3 linked regions of the Homo sapiens genome follow. The protein of the gene in region 3 interacts with the protein of the main gene of each other region in a pairwise test. Each region holds a gene or a part of one and is shown on either strand. Other genes may lie near its edges. The genes, in order: CARD14, PHF20L1 and ZNF471.

Region 1 (3,645 bases), on a different chromosome or scaffold from region 3:
AAGGCGCCATCTGCCTCGCATTTCCTTAAAAAGAAACCTGAAGTGCAGAATGTCAAGATGGTTGAATCCGCATGGTAGATATGTGGATATTTGTTATTTGCAGGATTTTTTAATATGCTGAAAACAGTGCACAGTTTTAAAACATTTTAAAATTATTTAGATGGATTAATGGGCTAATGGCCTCATGTTGATGCCAGAGAGGGGCTCAGGCAGGGGCACAGTGGGGTACACAGCTCATCTCTCGCTGGGATGGGAGGCTGGGCAGGTGACGGCTGAGGACCTCCAACAGCTCTTAGAGTCTGCACTAGCCAGCATGTCCCCTGAAGAGCAGGTGTTCCGGGCTGTAACGGCGACCTGCTTCGTGTATTCTGTCCAGACAGACCTGGGCTTGGGACATCAGCCCTGGTGGTGGCCCCAGATCAGCTGCAGCTCAGCCCTTTCGGGGACCTGTCCACCCTCTGTCTGCCTCGCCATCTTTGTAAGCCCACACCCCCCGCAGCCGAGCCGTGCTGGCCGTTACTACCCTGAAGTGTCTTCTGCGAGGCACTTGTGCCCAGTGTCACTCCCCAGCACATTTCCCTCATGTGGAGTCCTCTGCGCAGTCCTCTGTGTCACTGTCCTGGGCCGCTGCAAACAAGGGACCACCTGCTGCGTAGTTGAAAACAATGGGAACTTTTTTTTTTGTTTTTTTAGACAGAGTCTTGCTCTGTTGCCCAGGCTGGAGTGCAGTGGCACGATCTCGGCTCTAGAGAAGCCGACAGTCTTGCTTCTAATGAAAATTACCTTTCATAAAGAACTTATAAAGCAGCATTTCCAAAGTGCAGCACCCCTACTGTTATTTGTTTGTTTGTTTGTTTGTTTGTGTGTTTGTTTACCGGGACAGGGTCTCCCTCTGTCACCCAGGCTGGAGTGCAGTGGCACAATCTCAGCTCACCACAACCTCTGTATCCCAGGCTCAAGTGATCCTCCTGCCTCAGCCTCCTAAGTAGCTGGGATTGCAGGTGCATACCACCATGCCTGACTAATTTTTGTATTTTTAGTAGAGACAGGGTTTCACCATATTTGCCAGGCTGGTCTCGAACTCTTAGGCTTGAGCAATCCTTCCCCCTTCGCCTCTCAAAGTGCTGGGATTATAGGCGTGAGCCAATACGCCTAGCCTACTACCATTATTTTAGATGAATTTCTAAAAAAAAAAAAAAGTATTTATTTACTTTAATTTTTTAGAAAAAGCTGTAACTGACACAACAAAGTGTGATTTAGTGACTTTATTGCTTAGGATTGGGGTAGAGCAGGTGGGGCCGTGGCACTCAACCTTACACAGAGGGAGAAACCAGAATGGCAAATGGCCACTGGAATGCTTCCTCTGCCGTAAACATCTCAAGACTGTGGGTTCTGACTGGCAAAGAGTGCGCCTTGCTAATTTTACGATGGAGTTGATTTTAAAACGGTGTCACCCTGGCTATCCTGGGGTCCTGCTTACCTGACAACTCCACCCCCATGGCCACCCCTCCTAGGGTCCTCCCAGCGCCCAGCCATGGGGGAACTGTGCCGCAGGGACTCCGCACTCACGGCACTGGACGAGGAGACACTGTGGGAGATGATGGAGAGCCACCGCCACAGGATCGTACGCTGCATCTGCCCCAGCCGCCTCACCCCCTACCTGCGCCAGGCCAAGGTGCTGTGCCAGCTGGACGAGGAGGAGGTGCTGCACAGCCCCCGGCTCACCAACAGCGCCATGCGGGCCGGTGAGCGCAGCTCCCTCTTCCCCACCTCTTCCAGCTTCCCGTGGCCCACATGGCTCCACTGTCTGCCTCTGTCTTCAGGGGGTCTCTTCTCGTCCTGTCTCTTATAAAAACACTTGCTGTTGCCTTTAGGGCCCACCTGGATAACCAGGATGATCTGATCTTGAAATCATTAACTTATATCTGCAAAGGCCCTTTTCCCAAAAAAGGTCATCTGGACAGGTTCCAGGTGGATGTGTCTTTGAAGGGGAACCACCATTCACACCACTACAGCTGTCTTTGGAGTCCATTCTGATGGTCTGACTAGTGTTTATTCATTAAAAAATGGGGATGGTAATGGCTTTACTGTATACGGTTGTTAGGAGAAGCAAATGAGTTACTGTTTATAAAACACTCACTGCAAAGCTGGGGCCATAGAAAACAGGCAGTAGGTGGTAGCTGTCAACATGATAATGTTCATGCATGTTGGCGTACGAACCCCAAACACAGGAGAGATTGATGCACGCTGGTCATTCTGGCTGAGAGAGATGGGCTCTGGGCCCTGGGCGTGGAAGGCCCCGAGGCTCTCTGGGACCTGTCACCCGCAGCCCCGGGGTGCCACTCTGCTTTCTGTGCGCAGCTCCAAAGCTGACAGCACCGTGGTGGGACCCTGCGTCTGCATCACCCACCAGCTTGCCAGGGAGGTGCTTGCAAGCAGGGACCCACCTCCTCACCCCGTCCCGGTCCCCCCGCACTCGCCAGAGCACTGGGGTTGCAGTAGTTGCTCGATACATGCCAGCTTTGCCCTTCTCGAGTCTGACTGAGGTCATGGGGGTAAAGGGAGCCTGTGAGAGCAGTGAGGGCGCGTCCCACCCAGCAGAACCCAGAAAACCGCTTTCACCTCCCGATTCTTACATGTGCGGGGGGTTTCCCAGCCCCAGGCCTCTCCCCCGTGGGGAAGCCAGCCAGGGAGCCCAGCCCCCTTGGTAGCTGGGTTCTGCCCAGACAGACGGTTCTGCCTCCCAAGGGCACTTGCTGGATTTGCTGAAGACTCGAGGGAAGAACGGGGCCATCGCCTTCCTGGAGAGCCTGAAGTTCCACAACCCTGACGTCTACACCCTGGTCACCGGGCTGCAGCCTGATGTTGACTTCAGTAACTTTAGCGGTGAGAGCTCCGACTTTGACGGTTTGGCAGGCACTTCTAGGAACCTCAGGCTCCTGGTAACCCCAGGTGCCCCGCTTACTTGCCGATTTGCCCTACTCCCCCTTCCCTCCAGGCTGCAGTTCCTGTCCCAGCCCCAGCACTCTGAGGGTGAGGAACCCCCTCACTGTATTGGGGTTGGATAGGATAAGGAGCCCCTGGGCCTTGACTCTGAAGGGTCGGTCCTTAGTTACCCAGTGCCAAAAGGAGACCCCTGAGCGGTAGGGTGGGGAGAATCTGCTTGGAGAGACACAAGCAAAGGGCAAGGGAGTGTCTCCTGGAGTCCGCCTTTAACCTTGCGGCTTTGCTGGAGGGGCCAGAACGGCCCAGCCTCAGCTCTTAGGAGGCGACAGAGCGGCCCCGGCCAGAGGGTACAGGGCCTTGGCAGGGCCGCGGAGCCTTCTGTGCACTGCTCACCATTTTCCTTCAGGGAGTAATTCTAGGCTTCCCTGGAGGAGCTGTTGAAAGATTTAGGTATTGAAAGGAGCAGGAGCAGGACTCACACGACCCAAAACAGTGGAGAATAGACCATTTTCCCTGTGTTCCAGCACGGTGTGTGTTTATGTTCTTTAGAGTTCTAGTACGCGGATTCGTATTCTTTTTTTATCTTTTTCTCAGGATAACGTTAAAATGAGTTAGCACTGAGTGCATTTCAGCTACCGAGGAGGGTCATTAAGTCTGAACAGTGGGGTCTCACGGGGAAGGTCAGAGTGGGTAACCCTC
Region 2 (4,224 bases), on a different chromosome or scaffold from region 3:
CCAGAGACAGAAACTTTGGTGAGCTGGCATTAAAAATTACCAACTGGCCATGACAAATCTCACTTCTAATTACATTTTATCAGCCAAAGCAAATCAAATAGCCATACATAATTCTAAGGAGGGTGGAAAGTATAATCCTGTCATGTCCTAAGGAAGATGCTACAAGTATTTGGTGTTCTGAACTAATGCAACCATGATGAGAAATTTCTCAAACATGGAAAGAGAGTTGAGATGCTGGGCAACCAAAAAACAAGATAACAAATATCCACTAGAGACTGTCTTATTTATATCTTTTCTATAACAAATATCCACTAGAGACTGTCTTATTTATATCTTTTCTATGTATCACCATGCTCAGTCTAGCTCAGTAGCTATTAGTGACTTAGTAGATGCTGAATGAATGTTTGTTGAATAAAAAAAGAATGATTGTTTAATTTACCAAATCTTACTATAACTGAAGCTTAAAGAGAGTTACTTTGCTATTTTAACTCCACACTATGAAGCAAGATAAATATAAGTGACATTTGTATGCAACGTTGCACTTGAAAACCAGAGTGGTACAGTGGAAACCAAGAGAAAAAAGATGTTTCATTTCAATATTATTTTCAATGTGTTCACTTATTGGTTTCTCCCCACAGCAAGGATACTGTCTCCTGTGCTTAGTAAAGTTTGGGAGGGTAGGTATTCGATAAAAGCAGTTCTGCTATCATTAGCTGTGTAGTCTTGGGGAAGTGATATCAATGTAGCCATAGGTTAAGGTTATTCAGCTGTGCCTGAGCACGCGCGTACACACATCTTAGTAATATTCGTCTTTGTATTGTAAAGATCTCCAAGACTGGAAAGCAATACAATTGTAATACAGTTGTACAGTTGTGATTGTCATGTGACATATTTACAGCCTAGTGTCTATCACAAAGCATCCATTCAAGGGAGGTTTATTGATTTTGTAGTAGTAACCATGCTCTATTCTTGATGTGGAGTGGGATGGATATCTAAGAAAGCATGTAATGCATTTGAAAAAGTTTGCCAAGGGTCCTGGGTAAAGGGGTTTTGGTGACGTGGTTCCCAACGAATCAAGAATAATAAACAATGCCCTTCGTCCTCAAATCTCAAAGGTCAAATACTTCACAACTACCAATAGGCACCAAGAGCTCGCGTTCTTTCCTCCAGTAACCAGAGCCCCGCCCGCTAGCGGTCCGTCAACGACCGCAAAGCCCCGCCTCCTACGGCGGCCCGCCAATCGGCTGCGCGGCCCGGGCCCAACCCTCGTGAGTCACGTGACAAGGCCAGGCCCGCTTCCGGCACGTCGCGGGCGGCTGACGTCGCCGGGGCCCGGCGTCGCGTCAGGGCTGGCCGGCGGCGGAGGCGGCGGCGGCGGCGGCGATGGCAGCGGACCCTGAGCGAGCTTGAGGGCTCGGACCCAGCTCCCTCCCGCGAAACCTTGGGCGGATCCGGCGCTGCGGCCCCAGCTCGCTCCGCTCCTGCTCCCTCCCCGGCCGCTGCCTGGGCGGAGGCAGAGGCAGAGGCCCGGGCTGGCCGCCCTGCTCGTGCCCCAGCTCGGCCCCGGACGGCCCGGCTGCTGTGCAGAGAGGAGGCCGAGTCGGTAAGAGGCGGCGGCGGCTGAGCCGGCAGGCCGCCTGGCCCCCGCCGGGCCGCCCGGGACGCCCCCATTCTGGTGTCTCTCTTTCCGGCCCGCTCCCCTCCCGCCTCCCTCCCCGTAACTCGCCGGCCCTATTGTCTGGGCGCCGCAGCTCCCTCTTCCCCTCCCTTCCTTACCCCCCTGCGGAGGGCCGGATGGCTGTCAAACCTGGAGGCTTCTCCAGCTCCCTGCCAGCCCTGTCAGCCTTTCCTGCCTGTCTCGTGCCACCCCCTCTCTGTCTGGCCTCACCTCCTCACCTTTTTTGGCCTGGCGGTCATTCTCTGACCATTGCTTTACATTGTCGGTCTCTATGTCTTCTTGCTCATTTCTTCTTCCCTCTAACTTGTCATCTCCGAAAACTTCCACTGTCCTATTTCTTGCCATTCTTTGCTCCTTTCCTTACTGTTTTTACTCCTCTCCGTGCTTTCTGCCTTGTTTTTGCTTCAAGTTTTACTCCCAGTAGACTGTCTTACTTTATGAAAGTTCCTTAATTCAAATCCCTCTTCATCCTTCCCTCTTCGAACCTAAGACAAAGGAAAATCTTGTTTTTTTTCTGGTACTTCATCCCTAAGTGTCACTGGGGGATTATACTCATTCAATCCATCACTTAATTATGGGCTCTAAGTTTGATTCTAGATGTTAGTGTACCTTGTGAACTATCCCTTACTGAATTCTTCCTGTGACAGACAGCAGAAAAGGTTGATTCGATTTCTACACAAACATTTAAGTAACTGCCTTACGTGTTGCGCACTGACAAGACCTCTATTAAAAATATTCATACATTTGTTCTTTTGCACCAGCTACACCCTGGGCAAGCTCCCTGTTAACTTTTTAATGCTCTAATATTTGCTTATACCATAGCAGGAGGATACCCACTCTCCCCCTCCAACCATGGGTATTTGAGTTCGCATATTTTCATGGCCAGTATTGATGCTATTTTTTCCCTTACCTATCAGACTCTTTCAAAGAGAAAAGAGGGAGCAGTTGGAATTTTATGTTTGTTGTTCTATTTTGTCTATTATGAATTGTGACAAAACCATTATAAAAGATGACAAGTGTGTGTGTTTCTTTTTTTCTTTTTAAACTGTAGGGAACATAGTCATTAGTGATCTCAAATACCGAAAGACATTTTACGGATCTCTCCTCGCCCCTGATAACAATCAATTTACATTCTTAATTATGAGTTATGTTTTGATTAGGTTATCTCAAAATGTATTCATATTCCTCACATACCCATTAGTGAAAAAGAGGCCACCTCAAGTGTGCTCGGTGGCCACTGTGGCCCAAAATATAGTACTTTGCATGTGAATGACCTAGGGATACATAGGTACTCCTTTGCAGTTTTTGTTCTAGCATTACAACCACTTTTATTATCAATGTGGACACTGTCTAAATTGAAATATAGTAGAAATACTCAGTTAACAAAAGCATGTTATTATTGCTTGTTGAATGTAAAGTATAAGAAAGCAGTCTCTTTTGTAATACTGTATGTTAAATTAAAATTATTGAATTATGTGCTACCAAGGTGGGAGATCATGGGTAATGAAAAATCCTAATCCCAAGAGGAATTAGTGGTATCTTCACTGGCAGAGGAGTGTGCCTACTGTTTCCTCCATCTTTGTGTGCTGTAGGGCCTTATCTAGTGTTTTGTATTATGAGGCACTCAACAAATATTTGTTGAAATTAAAAATTGATTTTGTTCTCAAGAATTTCAGTAGTCCTATTCCAGAACACTCAGCTGTCTTAATTTTTCAAAGGCAGGAAAGCATTTTCAGCTCTCCCCGTGGAGAATTTTCTTGGGTATCTGGAAGCTCAAATGTAAAGCATTTTTAGCTATTAACAATTTTTAACAGTCCATTTACTCATTCTTTTTAGATAGTTTTCTTTGTTCTTTTTCTTAAATCATTATCAAGATTGCCTGCAGATTGCACAGAACTTTATATAGAGATGTTGGTAATACTCCTTCAAATTTCTTAACAATTTGGCAAGTATTTCATATTCTCATGTATTGTTTTAGAAATTCTGTTTAATTTTAATTTGACCTGTTCCCTTATACTCTACTTCCTATGCATTTTCTGCATTGGAATCTAACTTTTTTCTTTCTCTTGAGGTAGTGAAAAGAGAATACTGAAGAATAGGATCTCAAGATGAGTAAAAAGCCCCCAAATCGCCCTGGAATCACTTTTGAGATTGGTGCTCGTTTGGAGGCACTGGACTACTTACAAAAATGGTATGGAAAATATAGAACTTTCACCTAAATATCACAATATCTGTAGCCTTACATATGTTAATTAAAACAGTAAATTCCACTGATGGTAGCAGAAACATCAGTGTATTCACATTTCGATTACACATATATGTTGTTTTTTAGTTTTCCTACTCTTTAGGCTTTTTAGGTTTAGCATTTAAAAACTATTTTTAGTCAACTGACTAAATTATTTAGAACAATCATTTTTGGTGTTTGAGAAATGAAAATAATTGTCTAGAGTATGCGGTTTATGTATACCTCATGTATACCTCACATGAGCTGTATTGGTGGAAGTAGAGAGAGGAGTAATCCAGAGAACCAACTTCTCATGTTTTGG
Region 3 (4,221 bases):
GTAGACAAAAACACATCCTCGTGCTGGGAGGGTGGTGCACCCCAACTCCACGGGCACAGAAGTTCCTGCACTAGGGATTCTCTCGGACCTTGCCCTACATGTCTCTTCATCTGGCTATTTGTATCCTTTAAAATATCTTTTATAATAAACCAGTAAACATAAGTGTTTCCTTGAGTTCTGTGAGCTGCTCTAGCAAACTAATGGAACCCAAGGAGCCGGCTGTGGGAGCCCCAATTTATAGCACATCTCTCTGAAACACAGGTACAACAATCTGGAGTTTGGAATTGGCATGGGAAGTGGGGGACAGTCTTTTGGGACTGAGCTGTCTAACCTGTAGGATCTGATGTTTTCCAGGTAGCGTCAGAATTGAATTGGAGTAGCGGTCACCTGGCTGGTGTCTGCTGCAGACAGGTTTTTTTGACATGTTAAGACATTATAAGAGACAATAGAAAAAATGTATACGATACAACCTTCTCTGAGTTATATTTCTCCATAGCCCTTTTTACTGTTCATCAGACTGTTTATCTAACTCATGAATTTGTGGCTTGTCTCTCTCCGCTTCAAAGTAAATTACATAATAAGAGGACAGGGATTTTTTTTTCTCTGCTGTATCCCCCTGAATTGCTTTTCCTTATTTGTCTCACCTTCCAATACTAATTCTACAGTTCTCCTAGTCAGGGCTAGTCCCCTAAAACGGGGACCATTTCCATTTTGTTAAGGGGCTGAACGCGGTTCAAGCCTAGCAGATTGGTTCCAAAAACGTCGTGTTATTCACTGCCTCTGATCAGTGACATTCCCATTTGCAGCTGAAAGAGGTATTAATTCGCCAGAGTCACAACACGGTCGGGGTTCCTCGTCGCTGTCTTATTCCAAAATAAGCTTAACACAGAAAGATAATGACACTCCCACGGACTGGCACAGAAGGCCGCGCTCCGAATGACATCGCGATCACAGAGGCACAGACAGCGTCACAAAGCCCCACGCGTACTCACACCGAAGGCTCAGCCGTCGCGCGTTTCCCTCCCAGGCCCCAGGAACTAGTAACTAGGGACGCTTCTGGTCTCTAGGCGAGGAGAGGGGGAGAGCGCAATCTTTGCGCCTGCGCACACTCCTGCTCTTACCCGCCGGAACCCTGGGCCACGCCCGGCTCGCGTAATCACGCACTGCGCAGGCACCGCCCGCTCTGCTCTAAGGTCCCTCTCACTCCTTCAGCAGCCCGAGGACAATCCCCTCAACACTAGGCCACGCCTTGTCTCCGCCCCTCTCGTCCGACCCCTGGAGAGAGGCTGGCGCCTGCGCGATGGGGGGTTCCAGCGTCGACTCACGGAGTCCTTCGGATGAGAGCGTCTGGGTGCCAGACGAGGCCGGGGGTTTGTTTTGGGTGGTTTGGGAGTCCGAGCTCGAGGGCTGGGCCAGGAAGGGCAGGCGAGGCGGGCGGCTCCGACGCGGGTCGCGAAGGCCCAGCCGCGTCCTCTGTCCCCAGGACGACTACATTTCCCAGAGGCCAGCGGGGCGCGCGTACTCGAGTCTGCGGGGCGGAGGCCGCGGCTCGGGGCTGCTGGGCGTTCGGGGCGGCTTGGGGCGGCGGGACCACTGGAGTGAGCTGTGGGAGAGATGGGGGTGTGCCTGTGTGTAAAAGATCTGTCAGAGTGTGAGGCTCCGTGAGAGGGTGTGGTTTCTGTGTGTGTGTGTGTGTGTGTGTGACAGACCGAGAGTCCAGTGTGAGACCAGGGTATGTTCGTGTGTGACAGAGCGAGACGGGCCAGTGTGAGAGACCAGTGAGTGTGAGAGAGATAGGGATGTGCCTGCATTTGAAAGAGAGCGTGTGAAGCTCAGTGAGAGGTTGCGAGGTGTGTGGGTGTGTAAGTGTGTAACAGACCAGGTGTCCAGAGCGTGAGACCAGGATGTATTCGTGTGAGAGAGTGAGACGGGCTGGATGGAGTGTGAGAGACCAGTGAGTGTGAGAGATGGGCGTGTGCCTGTGTGTGAAAGGCCGGTCGGTCGGTGGGTGAGGCTCAATGAGAGGCCGGTGTGTGTTCGAGAGAGAGAAGAATCACCATGTATGCGAGACTAGACTGTGCAAGAACAGAGTGTGAGACTGTGGTATGTTAATGTGTGAAAGGGAGACCAGTGAGTGTGAGAAATGGGTGTTTTGGGTGAAAGACCCGTCAGTGTGTGAGGCCGTGTTATGTGTGTCTGACAGACTGAGAGAGACCAGAGTGTGAGACCAGGGTGTGTTCGTGTGTGAGAGACAACATAGCGTGAGACCAGTGAGTGTGAGAGAGATGAGCACGTGGCTGTGTGTGAAAGACCAGTCATTATGTGAGGCTCCTTGAGAGGCTGGTGTGTGTGTATGAGAGAGAGAAAGAGACTAAACTGTGAGAGTCCAAAGAGTGAGACTAGGTTATGTTGTTATGAGTTTGTGAGAGAGAGGGAGGCGATCAAAGTATAGGACAAAGTTATGTTTCCTGGCTTACGACTTCTAAGATCCTTGGAATCTCCAAAGTATTAAGTGTCTTTTTGCATGCTAATGATTGGTGGGCTGGCAGCCTGTAGGTTGATCACGGTAAGGGATGGTCACAAGAACAATCTAGGCAGGATTAGAGGGTTGGGATTACCTGCCCCATCCCTCAATCTCCAGGGAAAGGAAAGGGAGCCACAGGTTAAACTGATCATCAGTGGTCAGTGATTTAACCAGTCATGCCTACATTATGAAGCTTCCATAAAAACCCAAAAGGACTGGGTTCATCAAACTTCCAGATAGCTGAACACTGGAGGTTCCTGTAGGATGAGCCCCTTCCTATATAACCTTGTCCTATGCATTTCTTCACCTGCATCCTTTGTAATATCCTTTATTACTACAAACGTGTTTCCCTAAGTTCTGTGAGCTGCCCTAGCAAATTAATTGAACGCAAGGAGGGGGTCATAGGAACCCCGATTTATAGCTAGTCAGAAGCACAAGTAAAACAACCTGGGGTTTGCAACTGGCATTGGAAGTGGGGAGCAATTTTGTAGGGCTGAGCCCTCAACCTGTGGGATCTTATGCTGTCTCCAGGTAGATAGTGTCAGAATTGGGTTGCCCTAGAGGTCACCCACCTGGTATTCACTGGGTTGCCCTAGAGGTCACCCACCTGGTATTCACTGAAGAACTTATTGCTTGCCTGGTGTGTGTGTGTGTGTGTGTGTGTGTGTGTGTGTGTGTGTAGATCCCCACACATCTGGTCTTAGAACTGTTTTGTGTTGTGTGAGTGGAGTAGGAGAAACAGTTTGTTTTTCCTCTTTGTCACCTGAGTGTGTTATCAGGGACTGGATTGTGAGAATCCAGAGTGTGAGACCAGGGTATATCAATGTGTGAGAGAAATAGATGTGCCTGTGTGAAAGATGAACAAGTATGAGGCTCCCTGGAGTCTGAGAAAGATCATGTGTGTGTCTGAGTAAAAGCAAGAGACTAGACTGAGAGTTCAGTGATTGGGAGAGACTGGGGTATGTTGGTGTGAGTGTGTGAGAGACCAATGGGTATGTGAGAGACTAGAGTATGTCTCTGTCTGGACTGGTAGGTTGTGAGAGGGTGTATCACAGTATGAAAAAGATTGGAGTGAGAGTGACCAGTATGTATTTTGTGTGCATGAGATAAAGCAGTTGGAATATGAGAGATCAGAGTGTGTTTGTGTATCTGTGTGAGACACTGGAGCATTTGAGTAACTGAGGCCTCTTTGAAAGATACCATTGAATGTGTATGTATGAGAGACCATCATGTTTATATGTGTGAAAGAGGGAGAGAAAGACTAGTGATGTGGTTGTGTGAGAGACCAAAATGGGTGAGAAAGAAACTATGTGAACCATGGTGTGTTATCCAAAAGGCTTTACAAATATAACCTCTGTGAGGTTGTGAAGCATGCATGTGTGAGTGAGACAGAGATAAGGGACAGTGAGCTGTGTGTGTGAGAGAAGTAAGATTGGGGGTATGTGTGAAGGTGTTGGTGAATCACCACGTGTGCTTATATTCATGTCCTCAGGCAATGGAAATGTGACTGTGTATATGTGCTTGTTTTGGGGTGCTTGTGATTGTGTCCTCCGTGTGACCATGAAACCTGTGTTAGTGTTTGTATGTCACCCTGTATACCCATAATTGTGGCCCTGTATGACTGCTGTGTATGGAGAGACTACTTGGAAGATTGATAGGATTGGATTCTTTATGAGTGTGGCTGTTTGGAATTGTGT

Evidence for each region.
Region 1: the proteins of ZNF471 (region 3) and CARD14 interact in a two-hybrid assay, tested with the Homo sapiens proteins (one large-scale study listed by BioGRID).
Region 2: the proteins of ZNF471 (region 3) and PHF20L1 interact in a two-hybrid assay, tested with the Homo sapiens proteins (one large-scale study listed by BioGRID).

The regions. Positions count from the first base shown.
Region 1 is NC_000017.11:80,179,905-80,183,549, forward strand, and holds part of CARD14 (caspase recruitment domain-containing protein 14), read left to right. Parts: intron 1-1,514; 5' UTR 1,515-1,534; coding exon 1,535-1,745; intron 1,746-2,748; coding exon 2,749-2,886; intron 2,887-3,645. UniProt on the Homo sapiens protein: Acts as a scaffolding protein that can activate the inflammatory transcription factor NF-kappa-B and p38/JNK MAP kinase signaling pathways.
Region 2 is NC_000008.11:132,774,043-132,778,266, forward strand, and holds the start of PHF20L1 (PHD finger protein 20-like protein 1), read left to right. Parts: upstream 1-1,345; 5' UTR 1,346-1,603; intron 1,604-1,896; exon of another isoform or gene 1,897-1,957; intron 1,958-3,749; 5' UTR 3,750-3,786; coding exon 3,787-3,869; intron 3,870-4,224.
Region 3 is NC_000019.10:56,506,551-56,510,771, forward strand, and holds the start of ZNF471 (zinc finger protein 471), read left to right. Parts: upstream 1-1,304; 5' UTR 1,305-1,370; exon of another isoform or gene 1,371-4,221. UniProt on the Homo sapiens protein: May be involved in transcriptional regulation.